2 separate regions of the Homo sapiens genome follow, and region 2 is linked to region 1. The links come from fine-mapping of genetic effects on gene expression. A gene starts in region 1. The other region holds a variant in brackets. All regions are shown on one strand. Distances are from middle to middle.

What was found.
Region 2: its variant is fine-mapped to the expression of MS4A14 in atrial appendage (GTEx, PIP 0.94).

Annotation. Positions count from the first base shown.
Region 1 is chr11:60,390,280-60,402,751 of GRCh38, reverse strand. It overlaps MS4A14 (membrane spanning 4-domains A14), which reads right to left and starts at 6,293. Exons shown (of 5, transcript NM_032597.5): 1 at 6,036-6,293; 2 at 4,772-4,900; 3 at 2,298-2,348. The coding sequence starts at 6,173. MS4A7 (membrane spanning 4-domains A7) reads right to left here. Exons shown (of 7, transcript NM_021201.5): 6 at 9,966-10,067; 7 at 6,804-8,965. The coding sequence ends at 8,891.
Region 2 is chr11:59,506,864-59,519,335 of GRCh38, reverse strand. It overlaps OR4D9 (olfactory receptor family 4 subfamily D member 9), which reads right to left and starts at 7,797. Exons shown (of 3, transcript NM_001004711.2): 1 at 7,590-7,797; 2 at 4,570-4,663; 3 at 1-4,453. The coding sequence starts at 4,423. The coding sequence ends at 3,479. The variant G/A (reference allele first, on the strand shown) is at 5,758.

The DNA.
Region 1 (12,472 bases):
CTCATTAAAGTCAGAAGACAAACCAAGTTTTAGAATGGGCTAAGGATGCTCTATGGCTAATGCTAAAGAAAATGTTCATTTTATCCCATTTTATCTCATTTTATCACCACCATCTTTCATAATCTGGAAGCAGTACAATGTGTTAGCAAATATCTTTGCTTGGAAATGAAACCTCATTTCAAGTCCAAGTTTCACTAGGACCTTAGGCAAGTAACCTAATCTCCTGGAATCTCAATTTCTGCCTTTAAAAATGTGAATGTGTCACCTAACTTTTAGGGTAGTATCCATTTATTCATTTATTTCATAAATATTTAATGTGCACCAGATACATGTGAGTACTGCATTAGGCCCTGGAGAAACAAAAATGAACAAAAGAGGTGACATCCTGCAATCATGTGGTTTACAGTCATTCCCTGGGAGAATTCAAGCAATAATCAACAGAATCGTTAACATTTAAAGATGTTAACCTATTTGGACTGGAGTTTAAAGGTGTTTTTTCTTGAACTCATTGTTGCAATAAAAATATTTCACACTGCCCCACCCAATTCCCTTTATTCATTCTTATTTTTTTGGAGGGGGGTGTGGGTGGGTGGGGTAGGTATATCCGAGTTCCTTTACAGGAAGGGGGTCATCTGATTTCTTCCTTCTTACCCACTCCCAGGACTGATATCACTCTTTTAAAGGAAAAACAAAGAAAAGCTTCACATTTCCATTCATCAGGTATTTGCTGTACCTTTATTGATTGTGTTATGACTACCGTGGTGGAAAATACAATGATGCCTTTACACAGCCAGTCCTTTCTGGAAGTTTGTGGCTTGGTGTGGCAAACCTCAGAAGTGTACTTGTGACTTAATGTTTACCTCAATCCCAGGTTTTTATTGCAAATAGGCACTTTGGCAGAAAATGCACAGGAACATATAGATAGGCCATCTCTCTCTTGGTCTTTAGTCCCCTTGTTTTCTCAAGGCTCTATTTTGGCTCCCATAGGACATTTTATAGACTAAGATCTCTAGATAATCAATCCCTCATGTGTATTGGGCTTTACAAAGAACATGCCCAGCCTAGTCTCTTCTGATTCTCATTATACTTTTGTGCTGTAGGAAGGACACTTGTTGTTATCCACATTTTACAGATAAATGGAATTAAGGAAGTAAGTGACTGTGAGCAATCACTTTCACGGTTTGTGGAAGGGCTGTGATGAAAAGCCAGGTCTTCTGATGCCTGGTTCAGCATCCTGCCTCCATCATTCCTGCACACCTCCATCTGCATAGCTCTCAGTGAGTCAGGAGTAGGTTTTCCTTACCCATAGTTTATTTCTCAGCTCTGGAAGGAAGTCAATACAGGGAGAACAGCATTTGGGGCTTCATCTGCATTGTCTGCATGTATTTCCATAAGCAGGGATGGAAACATTTATCTGCCCTCCCCTCAGAATGTCTCTATGCCTTGTAACTATCCCTAGAGGAAACTGGCAGAGGACCATAAGAACAGAGTTCAACTGACTTTCAGAGAGGCCCACATCCCCAGGACCTTAAACAAGATCAGAGTGGTTAGAAAGGAGTATGAACATTTAAGCATCATCTTGCCTTTTATCAGTAATGTCTCATTAAACTCTCAAAATAACCCTTAGAAGTAGGCACTTTTCCCTTCAGGTTAACACAGAAGTGAGTGATAGCCTTGGTTCAATCCTAGAACAATCCAGCATTGATGCCCAAACTCTTTCTTCCAGACCTTGGGCAGGATCTAAAGAAAAGCCTCGGTTGGTATTGGAGATAGGGCTAGGATTGGGAGGAAGAATTAGTGAGAGCTTAGGATTGGTTTTGGTTAGAGCAAGGTTTCTCAACCTTGGTACTATAAACATTTTTTGTTGGATAATTTTTGTGTTGGGGGGAGGCTGCCTTGTGCATTTTAGATGCTTAGAAATGTCCCTGGCCTCTACTCACTTGTTGCCAATAACACCAGTTGTAATGACCAAAAATGTCTTCAGATGTTGTCCAATATTTCTGGGTCCTGGGGGGTGCAGGGCAGGGAATTACCCCTAATTACAAACAATGAATTACAGGGATGCAGAATGGTTTCCAATAAACAACTCTTTTAGTTTACTTGACCAGGGAAATGGGAACAAGTGTAAGAATGTCTGTCAGGCAAACAGTGGCACTGGCAAATAGGAATGATCTGAACTGCAACTTTGATGCATACAGATTTTCCTGAAAGGTAACTTTATTACTAAAGGCTTCATACATAAAGATGATATAAAACAAATAGAAGATTTTAAATTTTATGTAGTTTAAGTGGCTTACCAGAAGTTTTGATTTCTTATCGGTTACTGTGAGGTATCCTGTAAGAATAAACTGTTAAGAAGACAAGAGACAAAAGTTAACAGGTGATGTGTTTGACCACCTTGCAGTATAATTTCCCTTGGATTTGCAAAATATCTGTTTGTGAATCTCCAAGACCATCCCGTTTTTCCACCTGAGCATCAGGGAGTAGGGAAGGTAGGCGTAGGTAGGGTAGGAAGAAACTTTGTGCTGGATTTGCTCAGCACTGAACAAGCGCTCTCTGCCAGGGCCAACTGGGACAGGCAGGCTCCTCTAAGATCCAGAGGACCAGATGTTTGATCCGGCTGGGGCTCCAAAAAGAGATTCCTGAGCTCTGGGCCTTGAAGAGAAGAGGAGGAGCTGTGCCTGTTCTGAGCAGGTGAAGGGAGACTTTCTCAAGGAAGACCCCTCTAAAGGCTGATATGGGGACTGATATCTAGTGTAGTTATCAGAGTCCCTCATTTCCCATGATCGTAGAGCCTAGTACCACCTCAGGAAAATGAGAACTCTGTCACTCCATGTGGAGTCCCTTACTTTTTTAATGTTCTGGGGATGGGAACCTTCTCTGTGGGAACTGGCCTTGGACCTTGGGGACATCTGGGTCTTAGAGTCCAAGGATCTGCAGCTGACTTGCAGAGATCAGAAAGTTACCTTTGATACCTCCCTCCGCTTCACTCCCCACATTGGATTGCCAAGTCCTGTCACTTCTACCTCCGAGTCACTCTCAAGGCTCTCCATCTCTAGCTCCATTGCCACCAAGCTAGTTCGGGAAACTCTTTCCTCATCTGTGTGTTTGTAGCCTCCTCTCATTGGATTCTCCTAGGTTTACTGTTATAATTGAATTAATTTCTCACTCTAAAAACACAATGATACTTCAACAAGTCTTCAAGTGTCACTATCCTCTTTAAAAACGTTCAGTGGCTTTCCCATGCTTTCACATTGAAGTTCCATTTTCTTAACATGACTATAGGGGTTGGCACGACCTGGTTACACCCTACCTTTATAGCCTCATTTTATGCCATCACGATAGATTCATTGGTCTTCTTTTGGTTACTCTTTCCCACATCAAGCCCTTGGCTCATGCTTTATCTTTGCCAGGGATGCTTTCCTTCCACTTCGCCTAGTGAGCAGCTACGCAGAAAGCACTTGCCTGACCTCCATGGTCAGGTGAGTCCTCTATTAAACCCTCACATCGCACCTGGAACTCTCCTCTTAGAGCACTTAGCACAAGTGTAGGAACAAATATTTGGGGTTACTTTTGACTTTTTCATGTCTAGTCTCCCAGTTAGATGACAAACTGTCTAAATCTAAGAACAATTCACCACTTCTCTCAGAGAGGAGCTGTTTTCCAGTATTCTCAGTCTCAGCACCTAGGATGCCATTGAAGACGCGGTATGTGCTCAGTAAATATCTTTTAAGTGAAAAGTAGAGTTTTCAAAAGCAGCATGCCAGAATCTCATTTTAATTCACACATGCAGAGTACACAAAGTCACACTGGGACAATTCTGTTGTGAAATGAGAAAGTGAGGGGTTGGTCTGTTTGATTTTCTACAGTATGGCATGTATAGTTTGAAAATCATATTGAATATTACATTATTTATATTGGGAAAATGAAAACACTGCTGGTTGTTTCTGAAATGCACATTATAGAAAAGGCATGGAGTATTTCTGTTTATCAAAAGAGACTGTGGATTTTTAATAGTCAGAGATAGTGGCCTAATTTATTAATTATTTCACCTATTTGTTGATTGATTGATTGATTGATTCATTCGTTCGTTCATGCACACTATGCCTCAAGCATGATTCTAGGTTCTCAGAATATAACAACTAAAACAGACAGTAACACTGCTGTCTTCTCAGGAGTGTATGTTATAGTAGGAGAAGCTCTAATGAGTCTGTCCTTAAATATTATGGCACAAAATTAGGAATCCAGGCTGTGGGGATTGGATAGAAATAGCACTGTATTAAGAATAATATTTATGGCTATATGATTATCTAGATGAGTGCCACTCATAAAGTTGTCTCTGGGGCTAAGAAGGAGGATGAGTGATAATAATTTTAAAATTCTTTTTAAGCTTTCAGAGTCTGTGATTCCATGAGTGCTAGCTAGGCTAGATATGTTTAAGTTATTCTCTACTTTTGAGCTCAGTTTCCTTATTTGCAAAGGAATAAGTAGGATATTTGTGCATCTAGTCTCCCAGGTTGGTATTGAGGAGCAAATGTCTTACTATACACACAAGGGCTTTGGAAACAAATTTTAAGCACCTGAGAGTAGTTATTACAATGATGATGGTAGTGCAGTGACCAAATGGAGTTGCTTCTTTTGCCGTGAAGGGAGCTGCCTTTTTTGGTCTCCTGGAGGGCCATATTTATGGAATTCATTACCCTAGGACGTGAAGCAGTTCAAATCTATCTTTATAGCAATTTCTCCAAAGCTTCTAATCGACAGTACTCACAATAAGTGCTCCCCAGAATGGATATCCTGTGAGGACAACAAGGGGAAGTCTTTGGGAGAAACCGATGTAATTAAGTGCAAATATAGTTCCAAAGCCCACAATGATTAGAGCAAGCAGGATCTGGGTAGCCTGTGAGGAGAGAAATGGGTACATGAGGTTACAAGTATCCAAGACCCTGTGGGCTACCCCACGTCCCTCAGGGTGTGCCTCCATGGCACACCTTTCCCTCCATCCAAATGCCTTCCTCTCTCATTTGTCAATCATTCTCAGATTGTTAAGAGACTCAGTTCAATGTGTTTCCTTCCCACTTTGCTTGCCTGGATCCTTCAGGTTCAAATCCTTCACTTTTATTCTTTATTATTTTCTATCTTCCCTGGTGTTACCAATTAATCTTATATCAGACAGATTTGAGTACATGTCTGACTACCCCCAGATTATAAGCTTCTTGAGCACAGGGACTATAAACTATTCACCTTTACATTTGTTTTTTCGTCTGTCTCACCAGTATCCTATTATTATCCTAACAGCCCCCACCCCCACATTTTCCAGCACTCAGTATAGGCTTTTGGAATTGGGGCTCATCCCAGTTGTCTAAAAATTTAAAAAGTTTGATGACATAGAGTGGAGAACCTGGGATGAGCTTGCATTTCACCTCCCCTTCATCCATGGACCCAACTAGGGATGAGAATAGCCCAGTGGGCCTATCAGCTTGTAGGAATCTGCAGGGAAAAGAATAGCAGCAGTGGTTCTCAGGGCGCAACTTCTCTGGCAGTCTAGATTTTGTCCCCAGGCCACATCTCTGGGCTGTGGCACACCAAGTAATGATTTTTGCTGTTGTACAAAGGATGGAGGCTGTGCATACAGCTCTCCCCTGGGTGCATTTGTGATGAAAAACGTTTTGCATGCCTTATCATTTGGTTCACTGTGGAGCTTTGAATATGGGTTTTGAAGCACTCCCAATTCCTTTAAGAGCATGAAGGGGAAGTCAAACCTCTCCACTTATGGTTTCTTAGCTTCAAGGGAGGTGCCACCACACCCTGAAGTCACTTCCTCAATGAGATATTTTAAAAAGTTATACTAGTTTCTTGCTTCCCCCTCTGCTGGGATTCAAAGATCAGTACTAATTTCTCATGTAAGGTGAAGGGGGAAAAGTAGAATTAACTCCCTCCCTGAAAATAATCTCTGCATATCTCTGCAGACATACATGAATAAATAAACTTCTTTTCTCCCCTTCTGGAAGACCTATTGACTGGAGAGGACTTACCCCCAAGACTCTTGGCTCTCCCTTCAGAAAATCCAGCAGAGAGCTATGAGGTCTGTAGGGAAATGCAGTCAATACAGTTTCGTTTGGTTTTATAGTGATGACGTGAGTTGCCCTTCTGTCCTGGGATGTTGACTCCATGATTCTATGGCAGAACTCTAGTAAGGGAAAGAGTGAGCAAACATTGCCGCCCAAATCATGATCTACCTCTCCACCAGAGTCACATGGAGCCCTCAGAGATGAGCCCTTAGTGATGACTCTACTCAGTAGTAGAATCTCAGAATCATAGTTGAGTCACAGAGTTTTAGAATTCTAGAGCATGCTCAGCCCCCCATCTTCCTGGTGAAAAGTACTGTATCCAGAAGACTTACTCTCTTGTCAATTTGCTTACAAACATATGGTAAACAAAGAATAGATGGTATATACGAAACAAGTCCTTACACATATGTTCATGAGTTATAAAGGAACTAAAACTTATGGAATATTCCTTATGTTCTGGGAACTGTGTAGAAGGTGTTGACATGCACTAACATTTATTCTTTTAACAGTTCTACAATACTGAAACTGAGGAACAGCAAGGTTATGTCACCCAAAGACATACAGGACAGGGAAGGGGCAAACTCAACTTGACCTGTCTCCAAAATCTATGTTTTTTAAACTCAGCCACGCTTCTGCCCTCCTTTGAAAGGAGTTTCTTTTACTTGATGAATTTTCTAACTTACTGTTTAACCATATTTCTCTGTATTATAAAAATCAGTAGATAACTTTGAATTTCGATTTTTTTCCATCTTTATTGAGGTATATTTGACAAATAAAAATTATATATATTTAGGGTGTACTACATGTTTTGATATACATATACATTCCAAAATGATTACCACAATCCAGCTAATTAACATATCCATCACCTCACGTAGTTATCTTTTTTCTTTTTTTGTAGTGAGAACATTTAAGAACATTTAACAATTCTTTGCATTTTCAAATTAAACAAAAAAAAATCAGTAGTAAAGATGCTATAGGACCAGATGGAGTTGCCCCTTTATAACAGAGAATATTTTAGCTTTCATAAAGTTAAGCAAAATCTAATGATAGTCAAATCCTTCCTGGTTTGAACTACACAAATACTAATTAAAACAACAGAAACTGCCTTTAGAAATTTTGCTTCCCATATTGATCCTTTATATTCCTAAATTTATTACAATTTTAACTATGAGATCATGAAGGTAAATTGTTTCATAAAACTAAAACCAATGTATACACATAATAACTTGAGTATTTCCTGGTTTGTAGCGACCATCGATAGCAGGGTATCTCAAAATGAGCACTGATGACATTTGGACTCAATAATTCTTTGTTGTAGAAAGTTATAAGATATATATATTTTAAACTATGCTACTCCTCATTTATTTAGGAAACCTCATATGCATAGAGAGTGCAAAGTTAAACTGCAGCCACACTGGAATTTCCATAATTGCCCAAGAAATCGAGTTTAATGCAGAGGCTCACACAGAACATATTACACAAAGAACAGACAAGATAATTGCAGCAATGACTGGGAAGAAAGAATACGCCCATGTGGTACAAAGTGCAGGGGTGATGATCTGAATTACAAAACTGTGCTATAGATCAAAATAGAGCTAATACCCAAACAAAGAAATAGACATTATTCTTTTCAGCATGAGCAGCATTTAGCTCCAAGCTAGAAGCAGAAAACATGCCAGTCAGAGATTATCTGTAACTTGTTAAGACTAAGATGTCTTCATTGACTCCTACCCTGAAATGACAGAAGAGAACATAGTTTATGTGCCAACGACTGAATATTCTTTTTTATTTTATTTTATTCATTTATTTAAAATAAATGAATTCAAAGACTATATATAGTCTATTTTTATTTTTATTTATTTTTTTATTTATTTTGAGATGGAGTTTTGTTCTTGTAGGCCGGGCTGGAATGCAGTGGTGCAGTCTCCGCTCACTGCAACCTCCCCTTCCCGGGTTCAAGTGATTCTTCTGCCTCAGCCTCCCAAGTAGCTGGAACTACAGGTGCGCACCACCATGCCTGGCTAATTTTTTGTATTTTTAGTAGAGACAGGGTTTCACCTTGTTGGCCAGGCTGGTCTCAAACTCCTGACCTCGGGTGATCCGTCCACCTCGGCCTACCAAAGTGCTGGGATTACAGGAGTGAGCCACCGCGCCCAGCCAAGAAGGCCATTTTTAAACAATAGAATGAGCACCACTGGTTGGTGCCACAGGATTGCAGAGATTTGGATTTACATGGTAAGATTCATGGGAGGCAGGGACATGCTTGCTGTGTGTTGAGAGGTAATCCTAAGCACTTGAGAAGATCTCTTTGCTGTCTTCCACCTAATGGCTCATGAAAAAGGGCCCAGTAGATCTGTTTCTCAGAGAGTGTCCAGGGCAGAGTAGTTTAATTATATATAGTCTTTAATTTTTAATTAAAGTTTTCTTACAATCCCTAATATGTAATATTTAAGCAATATGAGTGTGAAAATAATACAGAAACAGCCTGCAGAGTCACGCAACTTACCAAATTCACACTAGCATGAGTGCACATTTTCCCTTCTGTGTATCACCTTCTGCTCAGTTTACCCAAAGCAGTTTATAAAGTTTATGACCATTTTGGAAGACTGGCTGATAACATTTATTGACTTGGGCTTTGAGGAAATTATTTTCAAGAGAAATTAAATAACGACTCATAGTAAACAAATACAAAACAAAAGCTTTTTTTTTTTTAGTTTGTTTCACAGTATCTAAAATGGCAGAGATTTCAGGAAAGTCTAATCACACTTGACCATGAGTGTTGAGTTGCTTTTCCTTCCTCTGAGGCCAAGAGTTACTTATATCCAAGACCGTGAAGAACTCTTTTTGACCTGTTGGATATGATCTTGTGACTGGGTCGAGGAAAATGAACTCTAGAAAATACATAATTGGTTAGAATTTTTAAACTTTGATTTCGGAGATTAAAAAAGATAACTCATAATACCTTTTCCCCAAGTTTTGTGTAGTACTAGTTCTTCCAACTTTGCCATAATATGTAATTGCAGCAATATTAATTAAAAATAATGCAATTCTCCAGTCTGCTAATTATTTTACTATTTTAAATAGGATCATAGTTAAATCATAATTCATCCAAATTCTATAAACATTTCTTTTGTTGTTGTAGCCTTTAGGGGAAATGAAAATATTTTAAAATTATAACATCAAGAGCTAAGGGGATGTAAGGAAGAGCACAGGGAAGCATAAACAGGACAGAGACATTCTAGTAAAGTCTCATCACATTAACAAGGAAACTTGGCTAGGGAGACTCTCTCGGGAGGCAGGTAGCTGTGTTCCCGATAAAAGTGAGGGGATACGCGTTCTCATTCTCAGCCCAATAGTCTGTGTCATTCATTTTCTATGTAATTTTATCCAAGCCGTGGTTCTTTCATGAGGGGTTGGGCTATGTGATTTCTAAAACCAACTAGCTTCATATTAAGCAATTCTCTAACTGGTCTGCTTCCCAGTAGACACCAGCTGATCCCAGATGACCAGAGTGTCCTCCAGAAGGAGCCCATTTATACAAACTCTTTTTTTTTTTTGAGACTGAGTCTCACTCTGTCACCCAGGCTGCAGTGCAGTGGTGTGATCTCAGCTCACTGCAACCTCCACTTCCTGGGTTCAAGCAATTCTCCTGCCTCAGCCTCCCAACTAGCTGGGACTACAGGCGTGTGCCACTGCACCTGGCTAGTTTTTCATATTTTTAGTAGAGATGGGGTTTCACTGTTAAACTCATTTTTTTAATTATAAAAGTGGCCTTCCACATGCACCTCATGAACAATAATTGATTCTTCTTTTTGCCACTTTTTGAGGTTGGATTATTGTAGCCTGGACCTGAGACACAGCAGGTATCAGGCGACATGTCAGCATACTCACCCCAGGGTTGTTGGAGTAGAGCTGTTTCCACCAAAAGACAGAACTGTATGCAGCTAATAAGAGCTCCAGCACAGTGAAGATGAGCATCACCACTAGGACACCCTGCAAATCAGGACATGAATGGCTGGTACCCAAGACAAGCTAGCCCTTGTGCCTGGCTAAGAGGAGACAGGGCGATGAGGCTCCAGCAATGCAGAGAAAAGGAGACAGGGAAAATTGCTTAATCCTCTTTTCTGCTTTCTTTTTCAGATTTCTTAATAGATGAAGGGAAATAAGCAGCAACGGCATCATCTCAGAACTTTGGTATCCCACCTAATGATAGATGAGAGTAATCTGCCACTTATCTCTGGTTGCTTTTATTATTTTCTTTTTGACTATGGTGTTTTTATTGTCATGATGATATTTCTAGGTGTGTATTTGATTCTGTGTATCCTGCAGTGGTCTCAATGCATTCCTTCAATCTGAAATCTCATGTTTTTATTAAATTCTAAAAAATTTCTAGTTATTTACTTTTGCATATACTCTCTCTTTTATAATCTCTCACTGGGACTCCTACTAGATATGTACTGAACCTCTCCACTTCCCTGCATCCATCATACCTTTTAGGCTTTCATCCATCTTTTCCAAACACACATAATGTGTTGTGTTCTGTGTGATTTAATCAAATCTAAATTCCATTTCACTCTTTGTTTCCTTGAATATATTGAATCTGCTGTTTAACTGATCTGCTCAGTTTTTAATTTCAAAGACAATTTTCATTTCCAAGTATGTGATTTCATTTTTTTCTCAAATGCACATATCTTTTTTTTCCTTTACTGTCCTTTTTTTTTTTTTCCATTTTGGTTTCTATTACTTTTTTTTTTTTTTTTAGACAGGGTCTCATTCTGTCACCCAGTCTGGAGTGCAATGGTGTGATCTCAGCTCACTGCAACCTCTGCCTCCCGAGTTCAAGTGATTCCCCTGCCTCAGCCTCCCAAGTAGCTAGGATTACAGGCATGTACCACCCTCCCTGACTAATTTTTGTATTTTTAGTAGAGACAGCATTTCACCATGTTGGCCAGGCTGGTCTCAAACTCCTGGCCTCGGGTGATCCACCCGCCTCAGCCTCCCAATGTGCTGGAATTACAGTTGTGAGCCACTGCACCTGGCCTGGTTTCTATTACTTTTTAAACATCTTTAATGATTTAAAATGTATTTTCATAATAGCCTTGTTCAAATTATTATGTTATCTCCAATTCTTGAGCTTCTGACTTTCATGTTTCCCCATTTGCTGCCGCTACTCATTTTTTTGTGCTGTTGTTATGTTTCTCATAATATTTTGGTTATTAGATAACTTCAGTTTGTAGATGGTGGTAGTGGTAGGGTTCTTTGATAGGGAGGCATCTTATAAGTTGGGTTTACGGACATCTCCTTAGATAGTAGTTTTAGATTTGATTCTGCTAGAACCTTAGAAGTTTCACATATCTCGTAACAGTTTTTAACTTAATGCTTTTATTTGAGGTCCCCCTATTTTATATGTAATTATGAATTCAGATGGCACACTTGCACAAAGCTTAGTGAGCTGACGGAAGGTTTTCTTGAAACTTCTTGGGATGTTGGGCAGAATTTTCCTTATATTATTTTCACAAATTGAGTAAATATTCAGTATCAGCTTTCAACATTTTTGCAGGGTACTCCATATGAGCTTTATGGCCCTGTCCAATGCCAAATCTTGTCATGGATGTTAAAACTGTGTGATCCTAGCCTCTAATACCAATATTCCTATTCAGACTTCCTTGGTATTTTGGCCTCAGCTCTTGTTTGATGATTTGGCTTTAGGATCCTTCTTAGCTTCTGGAACCTAAGTCATCTTTCTTCTTAGATTTGTTTTTCCTTCTGCCCTCCCTTCCTTTCTTCTTCCAACTTTGGCTATATATTTTTTAATTTTTAAAATTTCATTACTTTTGTTCAGGTAATTGCTGTGTTAATTAACAAAGAGTAGGCCTTTGGAGTCTGCTTAGTCTGCTATGTTGCAACTTCTCTCATATTGTAGGAAGTTCTTTTGGACTCCAGTTGTCTCAGAATGGGAAGCAGTTTGGGGTAATGAAATTCATTTTCTTTAAATTAAACCCCCAATATGCCTCTCCCACCCCCATTGCTTTACCACATGTCTGTCCTACACCAGGATGACACTATCTACTGGGTTTCCTCCAGACAGGTCTCTGTGCTCTTCCACTTCCTCAAGCTCCTGAACCAAAGGGGTTGCTTTTGACAATCTCTGGGTCACATGAGCAGACCCACAGGAGTGCAAAAGCTTGCACACATTTTCTGAGATTTGTGAGATAGATGGATCCAAGGGAATGAGAGATACTACCTTGGGTTCCCTGTGCTCCTACTAGGAGGATTCATAGAGGAAGAAGTCTTTCTTCTTAAAAGGCCACTGGTTTATGGTTTTAACACCATGATACTATATTTATAGGATTGAATAAGCAAGGCTTGTCACCACGAACAGGTAGTGATCATCAAGT
Region 2 (12,472 bases), 880 kb after region 1:
TTTGCCCAGGTGGGAGTACGGTGGGGCATTCATGGCTCGCTGCACCCTTGACTTCCCCAGGCTCAAGTGATCCTCCCAGCTCAGTCTCCTGAGTAGCTAGGACTACAGGCGTGTGCCACCATGCTCTGCTAATTTTTATATTTTTTGTAGAGATGGGGTTTTGCCATGTTGCCCAGGCTGTTCTGAAACTCCTGAGCTCAAGCAATCCACCCTCCCTGGCCTCCCAAGGTGCTGAGATTACAGGCATGAGCCACCGCAGCCAGCCCTGTAGCAAACATTTTTATGTATTAAGAGAATCCTTTTATAGACAAAGTCTTAATCTTTGTAATGTAACCCAACTGTGATTTCTTAGCAGTGAATCTTACATGTGGAAGAGATCACTAGAGTTCATTCTTCATATTTTCTTCTTTCTGAGAGCAGAGTTTGATTTCATTCTCCAGGCTCCCTTGCTGTCAGGTGAGGCTATGTGACCAAGGGCTGGCCAATGAAAGTGGTCATAAGTAGTTCACACCACTTCCAGGACTGTCCCATAAAGACACACCCCTCCCTTCCCCATAATTCTTAATTTCTCTCCCTTTCTCTATCTGCTGGATGCATGAACAGGATTATGAGGATCTAGAGACTGTGGAGCATAAGACAGCATGAGCATGTTCAGGTGAGGTGTCTCATGCCTGTAATTCTAGCATTTTGGGAGGCTGAAGTGGAGGGATCATTTGAGTCCAAGAATTTCAACCAGCCTGGGCAACTTAGTGAGACCTCATCTCTATGAAAATAAAAATATACAAAATTAGCCAGATATAGTGGTGCATGTCTGTAGTCCCAGCTACTCAAGAGGCTGAGGCAGGAGAATCACTTATTCTTAATTCTCTCTCCCTTTCTCCATCTGCTGGATCATGGACAGGATTCTGAGGATCTAGAGAATGTGGAGCCCAAGACGGGAGAAGCCTGCATTTCTGAATGACAGTGTGGCACTGTGCCCTCTTTCTGCAGACCAGCATTGGCCTGTGACATGAGCAAGAAGTAAACTTTTGTTGTGGCTAACTACTTAGACCGTGGACATTTTTGTTGCAGTGGTTGGCCTACTCTGATTGATAAATGTGTGCCAGCTGCTATGGCTTGAGCTTTATCATAGTGGGGAACACAGTATGGTGAAGTCAATAGATCTTAGCAGAGTATCAGCTGGATTGTCAGATAAATCTTCTCCTAGCACTATCCCTGTCTCTTTCACAACAGAGACTGGCAAATTCTCAGGTTCACTAATTAAACTATCATGCTTTTTATACCCTTTCTTTACCTTCTAATAGATTGAGTGGCACAGGTAAAGGAGTGGTGAGATCACTGTGTATAGAAACAACAGGAAATTTGGATCTGGCTAATCCTGCTATATAAGGGGGAGTCAGTTGCTTCCCATTTGAGAGCTTGGCATCTGCCTTTGCTCATTTTTTTCTCAAAATCAAAGGAGCTGTCCACAGCCTCAACAGTGATTCTTCTCCTTTTTTTTTTTTGAGTTGGAGTCTCGCTCTGTCGCCCAGGCTGGAGTGCAGTGGCACAATCTTGGCTCACTGCAACCTCCGCCTCCCAGGTTCAAGCAATTCTCCTGCCTTAGCCTCCTGAGTAGCTGGGATTACAGGCGCTTACCACCACACCCGGCTTAATTTTTGTATTTTTAGTAGAAATGGGGTTTCACCATGTTGGTCAAGCTGGCCTCGATCTCCTAACCTCGTGATCCACCCGCCTCAGCCTCCCAAAGTGCTGGGATTACAGGCGTGAGCCACTGCGCCCGGCAACAGTGATTCTTCTTTATGAACACTCTCACTAACAGCATTATTTCCTTCTCCTAGGAGGAAATTATGTCCTTGAAGTGAATTGGGGATCCTCTCTCCTCAACAGAAATCATGGGCTTGCATTGTTCAGGTGGTCATAAATGGAGTTATTCTTCCCAACTTTTCTTTTAAAGGTCCAGTACCAGTATTCACCCCAAGAGTGTATTACGCCATGGCTGCACTGAGTTCACTGTTACACAAATGTGGCACAATCTCACCTCATTTTCTTTCTTTGCGCATGCTGGTTTCTTTTTGTCTTTTCTTTTCTTTTTTTTTTTTGACAAGTGTCTTGATCTGTTGCTCAGGCTGGAGTGCAGTGAAGTGAACATGGCTCACTGCAGCCTCAACCTCTCCTGCCTCAGTCTCTCAAGTAGCTGGGACTACAGGTGTGCATCATCATGTCTGGTTAATTTTTATTTATTTATTAATTATTATTATTATTTTTGGACAGAGTCTTGCTCTGTTGCCCAGGCTGGAGTACAGTGGTGTGATCTCGGCTCACTGCAAGCTCTGCTTCCCGGGTTCATGCCATTCTCCCGCCTCAGCCTCCCCAGTAGCTGGGACTACAGGCACCCACCACCAAGCCTGGCTAATTTTGTTTTTGTATTTTTAGTAGAGATGGGCTTTCACCATGTTAGCCGGGATGGTCTCGATCTCCTGACCTTGTGATCCACCCGCCTTGGCCTCCCAAAGTGCTGGGATTACAGGCATAAGCCACCGCGCCCGGCCTATTATCATGATTTTTTGTAGAGATGAGGTTTCACTAAGTTGCCCAGGCTGGTCTTGAACTCTTGGGCTCAAGTGATCCCTCCACCTCAGCCTCCCAAAGTGCTAAGATTACAGGCATAAGACACCTCATGTGGACAAGTACATGTTGTTTTCCTTGCTTGGATTGTTCTTTTCTGATCTTTTTCCCCTTGAAAATGTCTACTGGCTGTTAAATGTCTTTGGAAACTCTCAAGTAATATTGTGGCTACAGTTCCCCTAGCACTTTGTTTATTTATTTTTTATTTTTTTTATTTTTTTGAGATGGAGTTTCGCTCTTGTTGCCCAGGCTGGAGTGTGATGGTGTGATCTCAGCTTACTGCAACCTCTGCCTCCCGGGTTCAAGTGATTCTCCTGCCTCAGCCTTCCGAGTAGCTGGGATTACAGGCATGCGCCACCATGCCTGGCCTATTTTTCTTTGTATTTTTAGTAGAGACTGAGTTTCTCCATGTTGGTCAGGCTGGTCTTGAACTCCCGACCTCAGGTCATCTGCCTGCCTTGGCCTCCCAAAGTGCTGGGATTACAGGTGTGAGCCACCACGCCTGGCCTGTTTATATTTTTTAATAAGTATTTTGGGTTATGCCTCCAGGAAGGTGACTACATTTAATCTTTTTGCAGCAATCTGAATCCCAGTACTTTCAGACATATAGTGTATGCTCTATAAAAATTTGTGGAATGAATAATTGAAAGTGAGTAGGGAAAGACTTGAGTGGATTTTGTCTTAGAGCAGTATCATCCACGTGGTCCCCAACATATATGATGGAATAACTTCTTTTAGGACTCGATGGTGGCCATAGGTATCTCTTTGTTTTGGGCATGAACAAGCTCCTTTCCCATTTTGAGAAAGTGAAATTTAATGTCTATCTTTAAATATGGGTACTATCTTACCCTTATTGAATTAAAATCCTTTCTGATTGTCCTAGCCGTCTCTTCAGTTTCCTCATGGCCAACTTCATTTCCTGATTCCTCAGCGTGTAAATTATAGGATTGAGCAAAGGGGAGATGACAGTGAAGGTGACAGAGATGGCAGTGTCTGTGGGGAGGGCAGTGAAGGGCCGGGCATAGACATAGATGCAGGGCACGAAATGCAGGGTCACCACGGTGATGTGGGAGGTGCAGGTGGAGATGGCTTTCCTCCTGCCTTCCCCAGTGTGAGACCTCAGCATCATCAAGATGACCGTGTAAGATATGAGGAGAAAGAAGAATACAAACCAACTGACTAACCCATTATTTGAAATCATCAGGAGCTCCAGAGTGAAGGTGTCAGTGCAGGCAAGTTTGAGGACCTGGGGGACATCGCAGTAGAAAGTGTCAAGAACATTGGGTCCACAGAAAGGGAGTGGGAGCAATAGAGAAATCTGCGCTATGGAGTGGACAAAGCCCCCCACCCAGGAAGCCACGATGAGGCCTGTGCATCGCCCCCTACTCATGATGGTCATATAGTGCAGGGGCTTGGAGATGGCTATATAGCGGTCAAACGCCATCACAGAGAGAGAAAAAACGTCTGCTCCCCCCAGAAGGTGGAAGAAGAACATTTGAGTGACACAGCCACTGAAGGAGATGGTTTTTGTCTCTGATAGAAGATCTATCAGGACCTTAGGAGCTGTGATGGAGGAAAAGCAGATGTCAAGAATAGACAGGTTGCGGAGCAGGAAGTACATGGGCGTATGAAGGTGAGATTCACAGGTAACTGTAACCATGATGAGGAAGTTTCCCATTAGAGTTGTCATGTACACCAAAAACAGGAAGGTAAATAAGACCTGGCTCAGTTCTCGGGACTGAGTAATTCCCAGGAAGGTAAATTCTTTCACTCTGGTGTAATTTCTCTGATCCATTGAATCACAGATCCTTTATCAGGTTCATCTCTGGAAGAAATAATAGTGCAGTTAAATAATATTGATAGGTCCTAAAATCTAGTGTTGTCTTTTCACTTAAGATTTGGCTCAGAATTAGGAGGAAGCTCTTTTCCCTATGCACTCACTGTGTCTGCAAGTCAGTATGCCACCACTGGATGAAAGATTACCCAGGTTTTTGATTCAGTCATCCCAGGAGACAAAGTTCTCTCACTGCTGCTGCTGAAACAGAGGTTGCAAGTCCGTGAATCTATTCAATTGTACTTTCACTATAAAATCTGACACTTAAAATAATAAATAATAAGAAGAAATCTGAATATATTAGGATTTCTGTTCATAAAAGCATCATTATGAGAATTCAAAGATAACCTGCAAATGGAGCAAGATATTTACAATACATTTATCTGAGAAATGACTCATGTTCAGAATATATAAAGAGCCTCTACAAATCAGTAAAAAAGCTGGATGACCCAACCTCAAAATGGCGAAAGATTGAAACCAATACTTCACAAAAGGCATATCCAAATGCCAATTCAACTTCATTAGTTATAGCAATAAGCCACAATATACATGCCAGATTGGCTAAATTGAAAAAGATAGAAACTGAAAAGATGAAAAAGTGGTGGTGAAGATGTGGAACAGTTGGAACTCTAATACACTGCTAGTGGGTGTGTAAAATTGGTATAACCACTTTGCTATTTGATTATCTCTGCTAAGACAGTATATAAATATAGTTTTATACATAGGAGGATATGTATATATCTACATGTATGATGATATATCTCTTTTAAAGGATCTATCTGTATATCATTACCTATATATCTCTTAAGGACATATTTCTACTTCTAGGAAATATGTACATATGTTCATCAAAAGACATGTCCTAGAATATTCATAGCAGCACTGTTATTTTTTATATTTTTTGAGACAGGGTCTCACTCTGTCGCCCAGGCTGGAGTGCAGTGGTGAGCTTATAGCTCACTGTAGCCTCAAACTCCTGAGCTCAAGCGATCCTCCCACTTCAGCCTCCCTAGTTGTTGGGACTTACAGGTGCCTGTCACCACACCTGAATAATTTTTTTCTTTTTATTTATTTTTTTATGCTGGAATAATTTTTAATTTTTTTATAGAGTTGGGGTCTCCCTATGTTACCCAGGCTGGTCTCAAACTCCTGGCCTCGGGTGATCTTCCTACTTTGGCCTCTTAAGTTTGATTACAAGCATGAGCCACCACACCTCACCAGTAGCACTGATTATAATTTCTTCAAACTGGAAAATGACTCAGAAATCCATCAACAGTAGAAAAGATAAATAAACT[G/A]TGTTACGTTCACACAATACTATACAGCAATGAGAATGATTTACACTATACGTAATAATATAAGAGAATCCCACAAACATAATGTTGTGCTGAATAATCCAGGGACCAAAGAGTATGCACTCTTCCATTTTATTCATATGTACAAAACTGAAGGGAGCCTAAGGGAGGCTTCTGGGTGCTGGTTTACACCAGTAGGCATATTCTGCTGGTGTAAAAACATTCATTGAGTTGGCCGGGCATGGTGACTCCCGCCTGTAATCCCAGCACTTTGGGAGGCTGAGGTGAGTGGAGGCCTGGCCAACATGTTAAAACCCCGTCTCTACTAAAAATACAAAAATTAGCTGGGCGTGGTGGCACACGCCTGTAGTCCCAGCTACTTGGGAGGCTGAGGCAGGAGAATCACTTGAACACAGGAGACGGAGGTTGTCATGAGCTGAGATCATGCCACTGCACTCCAGCCTGGTGACAGAGCGAGACTCCATCTCAAAAAAAAAAAATTCATTGAGCTGTACATGTATGTGCGTTTTTCTGTATGTTAGCATATCATACTTCAGTATAAAGTTTTAACTAACAAACATAACATTTATCATTTATAACACTTTAATCTCATGTTTAAAGAATGAATTACATTTAAAGCAAAATTTAATGGACCACTCACTTTTATAAGTTACTTTTATAGTTACGTGGTTATAGTCATCACCAGCTATCATCTGAGAGTAAACATTTTGTTGTGTTGTTGTTTTTTTGAGACAGGATCTCACTCCCATTGCCTAGGCTGGAGTGCAGTGGTGCAGTCGTGGCTCACTGCAACCTCCGCTTCCTGGGCTCAATTGATCCTCCCACCTCAGCCTCCCCAGTAGCTGGGACTACAGGTTGTACCATCATGCCTGGCTGTTTTTTTTTTTTTTGTATTTTTACAAAAAGACTGAGTTTCACCATGTTGCTCAGGCTGGTCTCAAACTCCTGGGCTCAAGTGAACCACCTGCCTGGACCTCCCAAAGTGCTGAGATTACAGGCATGGGCCACTGTGACCAACTCAAGAGTTACCGTTTTATTTTTTACTCACGTATGGATTTGAGATGTTCTTTTTTTTTTTTTTTTTGAGATGGAGTCTCGCTGTGTCGCCCAGGCTGGAGTGCAGTGGCACAATCTCGGCTCACTGCAAGCTCCGCCTCCCAAGTTCACGCCATTCTCCTGCCTCAGCCTCTCGAGTAGCTGGGACTACAGGCTCCAGCCTGGGTGACAAAGTGAGACTCTGTCTCAAAAAAAAAAAAAAAAGAAAAAAGAAAAAAAATCATCCCAAAGGGGACCCTTCTTTGGAAACAAGCTTATCAAGTATCTTGGACAGAGCCTGCAAACTGAGGATTCCCCCCCATACCCCAGCATCCCATTGAGCAAATTCTTCCTCATTCTCTACATTAAGTTGACTTTCTAGGATGCCACACATATCACGGTTTTCTATTTTCCAATTTTGAAAATCCCTTATTCTTGATTGAATCCCTAAAACTTTTACTAGAAGCATTATTCTTATTCAGTGGTACATGAAGGCACAGATAATCTTGTCATTAAAACATCTTACTCAAATCTTCCAAAATTTCATTCCCAGCCAAGAGGCAAAACTGCATCTACTAAACTCAGGAATTACTGCCTTTAAAAGCTGTTTTTCCAAGGCAGTCATCCTCCTGAGAGCTGGTGACGTCAGCACCTTCTCAACTACCTTTAATAAATTTTGAACCTCAATATCCCAACAAGTAAAACACAGCCAAGCCAACTGACCATCTTCCTATATTTTGCAAGCCACACTTTCCCTCTTTCTAATAGTGAAAAACTACCTCTTTTCTTTGCTTCTTAAGAGTCTTGACTTCCATAGGAACATTCTACACATTTGCAGCATTTCTCAAAATTCAGCACAAACAGCTTTTCAGTTTCAGAAGTTCATAGGCACTAATACTAACTGCTGGTTTAATCTTTAAGTGGGAAATTGATCCTCTTATGATGCCTCAGCTGCATTTTAGAAGAAGTAGGTACTGGGGAAATTCTCTGTTTAATGTAAAGCCTACCTCAAAGTGAGTGATTTTATTATCTTCTTTCCTCAGATGGGAAAAAGCAACCTCAGGTAATTACAGTATTCTGACTCTTTTCTACTTTACTACATTTTGGCCACCTGTATTAGTCTCCAGCCACAGCCCAATATAGGAATTAGCAAAGGGAATATTGTTAGGTATGAATGTGGAAGCTGAGTGGCCAATATAATACGCTACAATACAACTCAGGAGTTCCTTTGGGAGTCATTAAAATGTCACCAAGTACTCTCTGTCTTGTACTCTCTCTTTTGTTCTCTCTCCCTCTTTCTCATTTTTTCTCTGTTCTCTCTCATACATACATGCAGAGGCACCCGTGCACTCAGGACATACCCTTTCCTCTAGAGGAAACACATGAGACAGTGTATTTTCCTCTTTGGCTCAGGAAGAGAGTGTTTTGTTAAACCACACCAATGACTGTGCAGTCTTCCTCTTGACTAAAGTCACTTTGCCTGCAATCAGCTAGGAAATGAAACTTAAATAAATAAAAGAGTAACAGTGAAAAATTCAAAGCTCTGTGGCTACTGTCAGAGCAGCTCTCAGAGACTGTATGGATTTATACGTGCATTTTCTATTTTATTCATTTATTTATTTTTTGAGATGAAGTTTTGCTCTTGTTGCCCAGGCTGGAGTTCAATGGTGCGATCTTGGCTCACTGCAACCGCTGCCTCCCGGGTTCAAGCCATTCCCCTGCCTCAGCCTCCCAAGTGGCTGGGATTACAGGAGCCTGCCACCATGCCTGGCCAATTTTGTATTTTTAATAGAAGTGGGGCTTCACTATGTTGGTCAGGCTGTTCTCAAACTCCTGACCTCAGGTGATGCAACTGCCTTTGCCTCCCAAAGTGCTGGGATTACAAGCATGAGCCACGGCGCCTGGCCACATTTTCTGTTTAAAGCAACATGTACATTGTCCCAGGACATTTTTTTTTCTTTAAACAGTGTCTTGCTCTGTTGTCCGGGCTGGAGTGGTACTGTGGCATGATCCCAACTCACTGCAACCTCTGCCTCCCGGCTTCAAGTGATCCTCCTGTCTCACCCTCCCAAGTAGCTGGGATTACAGGCATGAGCCACTGTGCCTGGTTAATTTTTGTATTTTTAGTACAGATGAGATTTCACTATGTTGGCCAGGCTGGTCTTGAACTCCTGGCCTCAAGTGATCCGCCTGCTTCGGCTTCCCAAAGTGCTGAGATTATAGGCATGAGCCACTGCGCCCCGTCAGCCCCCACAGTTATTTTAACCTACATCTCTGAAATGTATAGCTCACTTTACATCTAGGTACAGCTCTTGATATTCATCAACTCAGTTACTGCATAATTATTTTATGTTATTTTTTCATGCGTACCCAGAGATATTCACTATGAAAACATTTAATTTGGGGAGCACATATATAAAAGAGCAGTTTGAAATCCACGTGTGTGCCCAGAGTCAGTTGACTTTTCTACAGTTCTTAGCAGCAGAGCTTAAAAAATAATGAAAGCATACAACAATCATTTCACAATGTATATGTATAATAAAACATCACATTGTACTGTTCACTGTAAATATATACAATTTTTATTTATTGATGACAGCTGCTTGGGAGGCTGAGGCAGGAGAATTACTGGAACCTGGGAGGCAGAGGTTGCAGTGAGCCAAGATCGCGCCACAGCACTCCAGCCTGGGTGACAGAGCAAGACTCCATCTCAAAAAAAAAAAAAAAAAAAGTAAAAACTAGGCTGGGCACGGTGGCTCACGCCTGTAATCCTAACATTTTGGGAGGCTGAGGTGGGCAGATCACCTGAGGTCAGGAGTTTGATGCCAGCCTGGCCAACATGGTGAAACCCCATCTCTACTAAAAATACAAAAATTAGCTGGTATGGTGGTGTGTGCCTGTAATCCCAGCTACCTAGGAGGCTGAGACAGGAGAATCGTTGGAAACCGGGAGGCGAAGCCTGCAGTGAGCTGAGATCATGCCACTGCACTCCAGCCTAGGTGACAAAACGAGACTCCATCTCAAAAAACAAACAACAAAACAAAACAAACAAAAACTAGTCAAAACTAATGTAAGTGGGAAAAATGCTGCTCAACTTGTGATTTTATGTCACTGCCAATAAGTGTTTGTGTGATCAGATGCAATTGCTTTTTCTGTCCTGAGTTATTGAATCAGGTTATGTTGCATGTTTAGACACGGTCATGAGGAAGTCAACAGGGACAATGATATGCCAAGAGTTCCTGGGTTCTTGATCTCTTGGGATTGTGTTTCTTAATCAGGCCCTATAGATCTGTGGAGTCATCTGATTCTGATATAGAGATAAAAACTTGATCTGAGTGAGTCACAAGAGTTAGGAAAGAAAGAAAAGGGCAAAGGACGGATTTGCGTGAAATGGGCTATTAAGTGGCTTGTAGTGTGTATTTTTCATAAGCAATTTCATAAAGAAAAGCCTAGGGACTCTTGAGACCAAAGCTACTTGGGCAAAGGTAGCAGGACCCTATGAATAGTGATCTGGCAAGTGTGACTTTTTATTAGAATCTGTTTGCTTGCAGAAGTAAGTTAATATTGTAAGAAGTTAGGTTTTGTTGATCAGGTGACAGGAAGTGGCAAACATTTGAGCCAGTTAGTTCATGAATGCTTACAGGGCCAGGCCAGATCCAATGAGGGACTTAAGTAAAGTTTGTCTTCAACATTCACTATCCTTCAACATTCATTATCCTTTGGCTAATTTACTCTCCTTGGGCTCTCTGTTCCATCCCATGGGGCCTGTCCTCTTGGCTACTCTATAAGCCAGGGTTTATTTTTGACCCATTATCTTCTTTTGATATTAAATTCTCCTGTGCTGTTTCTCTCATCAGCTTCAGGGTGACTTTTTTTTTTTTTTTTTCGTGAGACAGAGTCTCGCTCTGTCGCCTAGGCTGGAGTGCAATGGCACAATCTTGCCTCACTGCAACCTCTGCCTCCCAGGTTCAAATGATTCTCCTGCCTCAGCCTCCTGAGTAGCTGGGATTACAGGTGCCCACCACGATGCCCGGCTACTTTTTGTGTCTGTGTTTTTAGTAGAGATGGGGTTTCACTATGTTGGGCAGGCTGGTCTTGAACTCCTGACCTCAGGTGATCTGCCCTCCTCGGCCTCCCAAAGTGCTGGGATTACTGACATGAGCCACTGTGCCTGCCCAGGGCGACTCTTTAAGCCTTATGAATAACAAGCAAACCTATTGTCATGTTTTGATAATAGAAAGCATTCCCTATTTAATAAAAGGTGCTGGGAAAACTGGCTAGCCATATGTAGAAAGCTGAAACTGGATCCCTTCCTTACACCTTATACAAAAATCAATTCAAGATGGATTAAAGACTTAAACGTTAGACCTAAAACCATAAAAACCCTAGAAGAAAACCTAGGCATTACCATTCAGGACATAGGCATGGGCAAGGACTTCATGTCTAGAACACCAAAAGCAATGGCAACAAAAGCCAAAATTGACAAATGGGATCTAATTAAACTAAAGAGCTTCTGCACAGCAAAAGAAACTACCATCAGAGTGAACAGGCAACCTACAAAATGGGAGAAAATTTTCGCAACCTACTCATCTGACAAAGGGCTAATATCCAGAATCTGCAGTGAACTCAAACAAATTTACAAGAAAAAAACAAACAACCCCATCAAAAAGTGGGCAAAGGAAATGAACAGACACTTCTCAAAAGAAGACATTTATGCAGCCAAAAAACACATGAAAAAATGCTCATCATCACTGGCCATCAGAGAAATGCAAATCAAAACCACAATGAGATACCATCTCACACCAGTTAGAATGGCGATCATTAAAAAGTCAGGAAACAACAGGTGCTGGAGAGGAAGTGGAGAAATAGGAACACTTTTACACTGTTGGTGGGACTGTAAACTAGTTCAACCATTGTGGAAGTCAGTGTGGCGATTCCTCAGGGATCTAGAACTAGAAATACCATTTGACCCAGCCATCCCATTACTGGGTATAAACCCAAAGGACTATAAATCATGCTGTTATAAAGACACATGCACACGTATGTTTATTGCGGCATTATTCACAATAGCAAAGACTTGGAACCAACCCAAATGTCCAACAATGATAGACTGGATTAAGAAAATGTGGCACATATACACCATGGAATACTATGCAGCCATAAAAAATGATGAGTTCATGTCCTTTGTAGGGACATGAATGAAATTGGAAATCATCATTCTCAGTAAACTATCGCAAGAACAAAAAACGAAACACCGCATATTCTCACTCATAGGTGGGAATTGAACAATGAGATCACATGGACACAGGAAGGGGAATATCACACTCTGGGGACTGTTGTGGGGTGGGGGGGGCAGGGATAGCGTCGGGAGATATACCTAATGCTAGATGACGAGTTAGTGGGTGCAGCGCACCAGCATGGCACATGTATACATACGTAACTAACCTGCACAATGTGTACATGTACCCTAAAACTTAAAGTATATATAAAAAAGAAACCTTTCTTTCTAGTTATAAGCATTCTACATAAAATGTAAATAAAAATAAAAGATTAAATTGTAAAAAAAAAAAAGTTTACAAAAAAGCTTTCCTGGGACTTCGGTAAGAATTGCATTAAACTTATACATTTTGGGAGAATTGGGATCTTTACTATGTTGAATCAT